Linked DNA regions of Homo sapiens. The protein of the gene in region 1 interacts with the protein of each later gene in a pairwise test. Each region holds a gene or a part of one and is shown on either strand. Other genes may lie near its edges.

The links. The genes of interacting proteins can lie anywhere in the genome.
Region 2: the proteins of TAB1 (region 1) and MAPKAPK5 interact in a two-hybrid assay, tested with the Homo sapiens proteins (one large-scale study listed by BioGRID and IntAct).

Annotation. Positions count from the first base shown.
Region 1 is NC_000022.11:39,406,180-39,409,830, forward strand, and holds part of TAB1 (TGF-beta-activated kinase 1 and MAP3K7-binding protein 1), read left to right. Parts: intron 1-3,651. UniProt on the Homo sapiens protein: Key adapter protein that plays an essential role in JNK and NF-kappa-B activation and proinflammatory cytokines production in response to stimulation with TLRs and cytokines.
Region 2 is NC_000012.12:111,848,595-111,852,245, reverse strand, and holds part of MAPKAPK5 (MAP kinase-activated protein kinase 5), read right to left. Parts: intron 1-3,651. UniProt on the Homo sapiens protein: Tumor suppressor serine/threonine-protein kinase involved in mTORC1 signaling and post-transcriptional regulation. Phosphorylates FOXO3, ERK3/MAPK6, ERK4/MAPK4, HSP27/HSPB1, p53/TP53 and RHEB.

The DNA of each region.
Region 1 (3,651 bases):
ACAAGGTCAGGAGTTCAAGACCAGCCTGGCCAAGATGGTGAAACCACGTCTCTACTAAAAATACAAAAAATTAGCCGGGCATGGTGGCACGCACCTGTAATCCCAGCTACTCCAGAGGCTGAGGCAGAGAATTGCTTAAACCTGGAGGGGCAGAGCTTGCAGTGAGCCAAGATCGCGCCACTGCACTCCAGCCTGGGCGACAGAGTGAGACTGTCACCAAAAAAAAAAAAAAAAAAAAAGGAATCATTTGAGTGAAAGATAGTTTCTTGAAGATGGTCAGTGGATGATTGAGGTTTGGGAATCATGGGCCTCTGGCCCTAGTTGGATTTGAGCAGTGCCTTTAGGGTAGATAGGACTTAAAAAGACAGAAAGGGACAGGCTTTGCCTTACCATGGGTACTTTTACATATGCTCTTTGGGTAATTTTTTTCTTACTCTTTCTTTATTTTTTTTTAATTTATTTTTTATTTTTGAGACGGAGTCTTGCTGTGTCGCCCAGGCTGGAGTGCAGTGGCGCCATCTCGGCTCACTGCAAGCTCTGCCTCCCGGGTTCACACCATTCTCCTGCCTCCGCCTCTGGAGTAGCTGGGACTACAGGCACCCACCACCACGCCCACCTAATTTTTTTGTATTTTTAGTAGAGACGGGGTTTCACCGTGTTAGCCAGGATGGTCTCAATCTCTTGACCTCATGATCTGCCCGCCTTGGCCTCCCAAAGTGCTGGGATTACAGGCGTGAGCCACTGCGCCCGGCCTCTGGTCACAGTTTTTTAGAGATTGTTTGGAACAGTGAGTAGAAGGCCTTGTCTGTACAAGATACACAGCTGAGTGAGATTGTTAATCTGTCAAAGGGCAAAATTCAAAACTTTCGACAGTCTGGAAGGCTGGGATGAATGCATTAAGATGTAATTCGACTGATATAAATTTAGATTTAAAACAACCTTCTATAGTAGTTTGGCTGGGGGAGACAGACATGGTAGAAACTCACAGGAAAAGGACTTTGTTATTTTACATTACATAGAGGCTAGATGCTCATCTTCTCTTGGGTATATGAAAGCTGTTGATTTGCATACTTTGATTTTCTATCCTGCCGCCTAACTGATTTCTTTTTCTGTTTGCATTAGTTTTTCATTGATTCTTTAGGGTTGCCAGGCGTACTGTCCTATCAACTGCAAATAGAAATGACTTCTTTCCCGGTTTTTATGCTCTCATTCTTTACTCTGTCTAACTGCCTGGGCTAACACCTCCAGTTCTGTGTGAAGTAATAGAGTGGGCAGCCTTGCTATGGCCCTGATCATTTGTTGTTGTTTTGTTTTTTTTTTTTGAGAGGGAGCCTCACTCTGTCTCCCAGGCTGGAGTGCAGTGGCGTGATCTCGGCTCACTGCACGCTCTGCCTCCCGGGTTCCAGCGATTCTCCTTCCTCAGCTTCCCGATAGTAGATGGGACTACAGGCGTCTGCCACCACGCCCGGCTAATTTTTTGTATTTTTAGTAGAGACGGGGTTTTGCTGTGTTAGCCAGGATGGTCTCGATCTCCTGACCTCGTGATTCGCCGGTCTCGGCCTCCTAAAGTGCTCAGATTGCAGGTGTGAGCCACCGTGCCCAGCCTAATTTTTTGTATTTTTAGTAGAGACGGGTTTTCACCATGTTAGCCAGGATGGTCTCAATCTCTTGACCTCGTGATCTGCCCGCCTCAGCCTCCCAAGGTGCTGGGATTACAGATGTGGGCCACCATGCCCAGCCCTATGGCCCTGATCTTAATGAAGTGTTCCCCACTGAGTAAGTTGCCAGCATTAGGGCTGAAGTATACAGAGTAGCATGTTCAGAAAGGAGCCATCAGTTTCTGTTTTCTGGAGTGTTTTTACCAAGAATGGACCAAGACTCCTTAGATAAACAATAGCACTAGTGTCCATACTTACTGACCCAAACACCATTTGCCAGTTTATAAAATAATAAATTCCAGAAATATTACTGCCTCAACATTATGAAAATCAGATTTCCTAAAAAAGTACTTAGCAGTGTTGAAATATCTAGACACTATTCACGGGTACTTAATGAACAAGGCACGTGCTCAGTAGATTGATTGCCGTCAGACACACAGTTTTTCTCATTTGGGAAAGTTAGTTATTCCCACATCAGCCAAATACAGCACAGCATACAGTGGTCAGTAGATCATCAGCTTACTCCTGGTCTCCTGTTGTGAAACGCTCTCAGATGAATTGTTCTTGTGCCATGACACACCAACGTGGCAAGTTCCTCAGTTGCCTGTTTGAGCTTGTTTCTTTCTTTACTTGTGGAAGACAATTTCACTGGCGTTTTTTGTTTTTGTTTTTGTTTTTTGAGACGGAGTCTCGCTCTGTCATCCAGGCTGGAGTGCAGTGGCGTGTGCGATCTCGGCTCTCTGCAACCTCCACCTCCTGGGTTCAAGCAATTCTTCTGCCTCAGCCTTCCGAGTAGCTGAGACTACAGGCGCTTGCCACCACACCCGGTTAATTTTTGTATTTTTAGTAGAGACAGGGTTTCACCATATTGGCCAGGCTGGTCTTGAACTCCTGACTTGGTGATCCACCCACCTCGGCCTCCCAAAGTGCTGGGATTACAGGATTGATCCACCGTGCCTGGCCTCACTGGCCTTTTTTAATAGTGTATGTCTAATGTGGAACAGACCCATAAGTTGCTTGGGTCTTATTTATTTGGCTGGGAAACTATGGATTTTTTTAGAAAGATTCAAGTCCTTGGAAGCCTGTGTCTGTCCCTTATGGGAATTAGATACTGGCAGAGGAGGTAACTGTGATTACAGCATCGAAGACAGGTTTTGCATTGTGGTGACACATTTGTGTTAATATTATTCATCTCATATGAGAGGATGAGTTCATCTTAATCTCATTTTTAATCACAGCCTTCTAGAAAATAGAAATATCTTTTCCTCCCATGCTTTAAAACACCTGTGGCACTTTGGGGTGCTAAATATTGACTTCTTTGGCCATCTTTTCAGGAGGAAGACATGGGATACTCCTGACTGGGTAGATGCTTTTGTATTTCTGCTTAACCTCATAATTAATTTCATTCCAGCTGGTGGCAGGAGACAGACTAGAAAAGGAGCTACCTTTGGAAGTATATTTGCCTGGTTATAGGAGACTTTTGTGAGCTCGCTGGAAATGAAAATATACTAAGCAGATCTAAGACATAGGGGATAATTGGCAACATTTATCAGTTACCTGAAGAATACTTAATTCACTGGTTATTAACTCATTCCCATGGCCCAGAGGCCTTGCACTGCCCTCCCCCCCAGGCACATACGTGCACACATATTTGCAAACACGGCATGGAGCGTCTTTCCCCTGTGCTCACTAGAGAGGCCACACCAGCCTTCTCGTGCTTCCGTAAACCTGACATGCTTTTTTCCATCTTAGGGTCTTTTTACGTTCCGCTCCCTCTGCCTGGAAGCCTCCTTCTCTGCCTTCTAGAAGGTCACTGCCCCATAGTCATTCAGGTCTGGCTCAGACGTCACCTCCCCAGAGAGGTCTGCTTTTCTGACCACTTCATCTAGAGGCCCCCACCGCCCATCACGCTGTGTCCCATTACCATGGTGTGTTTTCTTCCTAGCACGTAGCGCTGTCTGAGATTGCCTTATTATTGTATTGTGTGTTTGAA
Region 2 (3,651 bases), on another chromosome or scaffold:
AATACATCCTCATTTCTGTCTGACTTTTTTGCTTTTCCATTTCTCTAAAAACATTTCTATACAATACTAATCCTTCTTCCACCATTTGCTTTCACTTCAGTGCCAGTATCACAGAAGGTTCCATTCCATATTCCATAAACAAAGCTAAAGGAAGTCTTGAATAATTGGAACCCTTCTGGCAAATTGTCTAATGTCAATTTTTTCCTGCCCCTGTTTCTTGTACATCTTATTCCTTACTGTCTGGCACAGAAGCACTCATCTCCATCAAGTCATCTTCTATTAATTCCTCAGGTGTGGTGTCTATTAGCTCTTGAATTTCTCCAAGATCTGTACCTTAAAACTCTTCACCCTTCACCTTTTTTGCCATATCCACAATCTCTTTCATGATTTCCTTAACCAGCTCTGTCATAAATCCTATGAAGTCACGCACATCTGGACAGAGTTTTCTCCACCAGGAATTTATTGTTTCAGGCCTGATGGCTTCCACAGCTTTTTCCATAACAATGGCATCTTCAGTGGTGTAATCCCTCTAGACTTTCACTACATTCTATCAGGATTCTCTTCCTTGGTGTTAACAATCTTTTCCAGAGTATCCCATGTAATGAGTCTTGAAAGTCCTGGACCAGGTGCGGCAGCTGAAGCCTGTAATCCCAGCACTTTGGGAGGCTGAGGCAGGCAGATCACTTGAGGCCAGGAGTTCGAGACCAACCTGGGCAAAATGGTGAAACCTCATCTCTCCTAAAAATACAAAAATTAGCCAGGCATTGTGGAGCATGCCTGTAATTCCAGCTTCTCGAGAGGCTGAGGCATGAGAATTGCTTGAACCTGGGAGGCAGAGGTTGAAGTGAGCTGAGATCACCCCACTGCACTCCAACCTGGACAACAGAGCCAGACTCTTTCTCAAAAAGTCCTTGAGACCTCCTGATCTACAGGCTGGATTAGAGACACTGTTTGTGGACAAGTAGACCACTTCAAAGCCTAGTGTTGAACTCATGGGATTCTCAGTGGCCAGGGGCATTGTGTCAAAAAAACTTTAAAAGGCAGTCCTGGCCGGGCACGGTGGCTCATGCCTGTAATCCCAGCACTTTGGGAGGCCGAGGCAGGCGGATCACTTGAGGTTAGGAGTTCAAGACCAGCCTGGCCAACATGCTGAAACCCTGTCTCTACTAAAATACAAAAATTAGCTGGGCGTGGTGGCAGGCAACTATAATCCCAGCTACTCGGGAGGCTGAGGCAGGAGAATGGTGTGAACCCAGGAGGCAGAGCTTGCAGTGAGCCGCGATCGTGCCACTGCACTCCAGCCTGGGCCACAGAGCGAGACTCCTCTCAAAAAAAAAAAAAAAAAAGAAAATGGGTTCTCATTATCCAGGCTTTCTTTTGGTAAAAACAGACTGGCAGCTGGTGTTTTATCTTCTCCCTTGAAGGCTCAGAGGTTAGCAGCTTTATAGACCAGGGTAGTCCTGATCATAAACTTGACTGTGTTTACACAAAACGGCAGTTAACCTAGCTCTTCCTGCCTTAAATCCTGGCACTCACTGCTCTTCCTTACTCATAAATGTCCTTTGTGGCATTGTTTTCCCCAGAACAGGGCATTTTTGTCTGCATTAAAAACCCATTCAAGCAGATATCCTTTCTCCTCAATGATTTTCTTAATGGCATCTGGGAACTTGTTTGCCGCCTCTTGGTCAGCAGAAGCTGCTTCTCCTGTTACCCTGACATTTTTTTAAGCCAAACCTCTCTACAGTTATCAAACCATCCTTTGCTGGCATTAAATTCTCCAACTTTAGATCCTTTACCTTCCTTTTAAGACACAATGACTTTTTCTCGAAAAATATTAGAGTCTATAGTTATGCCTTTCTTATAGCACTCTCGCACCCACGTAAAAGCTGCATCTTCAATATGAAATAAAAAGGTATTTTGGCCAGGCACAGTTGCTCATGCCTGTAATCCCAGCACTTTGGGAGGCCGATGCAGGCAGATCACAAGGTCAGGAGTTCGAGACCAGCCTGGCCAACATGGTGAAACCCCGTCTCTATTAAAAAGACAAAAATTAGGCGGGCATGGTGGCACCCACCTGTAATCCCAGCTACTTGGGAGGCTAAGGCAGGAGAACTGCTTGAACCTGGGAGGCAGAGGTTGCAGTGAGCCAAGATCACGCCACTACACTCCAGCCTGGTCAACAGAGCAAGTCTCCATCTATGAAAAAAAAAAGGATATTTCACAACCAGTCGTGGTGGTTCATGCCTATAATTCTAGCACTTTGGAAGGCCAAAGTGTGACGACTGCTTGAGCTCAAGAGCTGGAGACCAGCCTGGGCTACACAGTGGGACCCGTGTCTCTACAAAAAAAAAAGTTATTTTAATTAGCCAAACATGGTGGTAGACACCTGTGGTCCCAGCTACTCAGGAGGCTGAGGAGGGAGAATCACTTAAGCCTAGAAGGACATGGCTGCAGCGAACTGTGATCGCATCACTACACTCCAGCCTGGGTGATGGAGTGAGACTGTCCTAACAAAATAAAAGAAAAAGAAAAAAATGTGCTAAACTGGACTTCATAAAATTTAAAACCTTTTGCTCTTCAAAAGACACCATTATAAAATGAAAAGATAAGCCACAGACTGGGAGAAAATATTTGCCAATCACATAGCTGATAAATGACTTTTATTCAGTTTATAAAGAACTCTAGGCCAGGTGCGGTGGCTGACGCCTGCAATCCCAGCACTTTGGGAGGCCGAGGCAGGCAGATCACAAGGTCAGGAGTTTAAGACAAGCCTGGCCAACATGGCAAAACTAAAATTTTTAGTCTCTACTAAAAATACAAAAATTAGCTAGGCATGGTGGTGGATGCCCATAATCCCAGCTACTTGGGAGGCTGAGGCAGGAGAATCACTTGAACCCGGGAGGTGGAGGTTGCAGTGAGCCAAGATCGTGCCATTGCACTCCAGCCTAGGCAACAAGAGCAGCAAGACTTTGTCTCAGAAAAAAAAAAAAGAAAGAAAAAAAAAAGAACTCTTGGCCAGGTGCAGTAATCCTAGCACTTCAGGAGGCTGAGGCAGGCAGATCGCTTGAGCCCAGGAGTTCAAGACCAGCCTGGGCAACATTGTGAGACCCCATCTCTAAAAAAATTAATAAAAAAATAAATAAATAATCCTATAACTCAATAAGGCAAAGAAATCAATTTTAGGCTGGGCATGGTGGTTCACATCTGTAATCCCAGCACTTTGGGAGGCCAAGGCAGGCGGATCACTTGAGGTCAGAAGTACGAGACCACCTGGTCAACATGGTGAAGACCTCATCTCTACTAAAAATACAAAAAATAAATAAAAAAATAAAAATACAAATACAAAAAATTAGCTGGGCATGGTGGCGCATGCCTGTAATCCCAGCTACTTAGGAGGCTGAGGCAGGAGAATCGCTTGAACCCCGGAGGAAGAGGTTGCAGTGAGCCAAGGTCGTACCACTGCATTCCAGCCTGAGTGACAAAGCGAGACTCCATCTCAAAACAAAAAAAAGCAATTCTAAAACGGGCAAAAAGAGGCCGAGCACAGTGGCTCATGCCTATAATCCTAGCATTTTGGAGGCCAAGGTGGGCAATCACCTGAGGTCAGGAGTTCAAGACCAGCCTGGCCAACATGGTGAAACCCCATCTCTA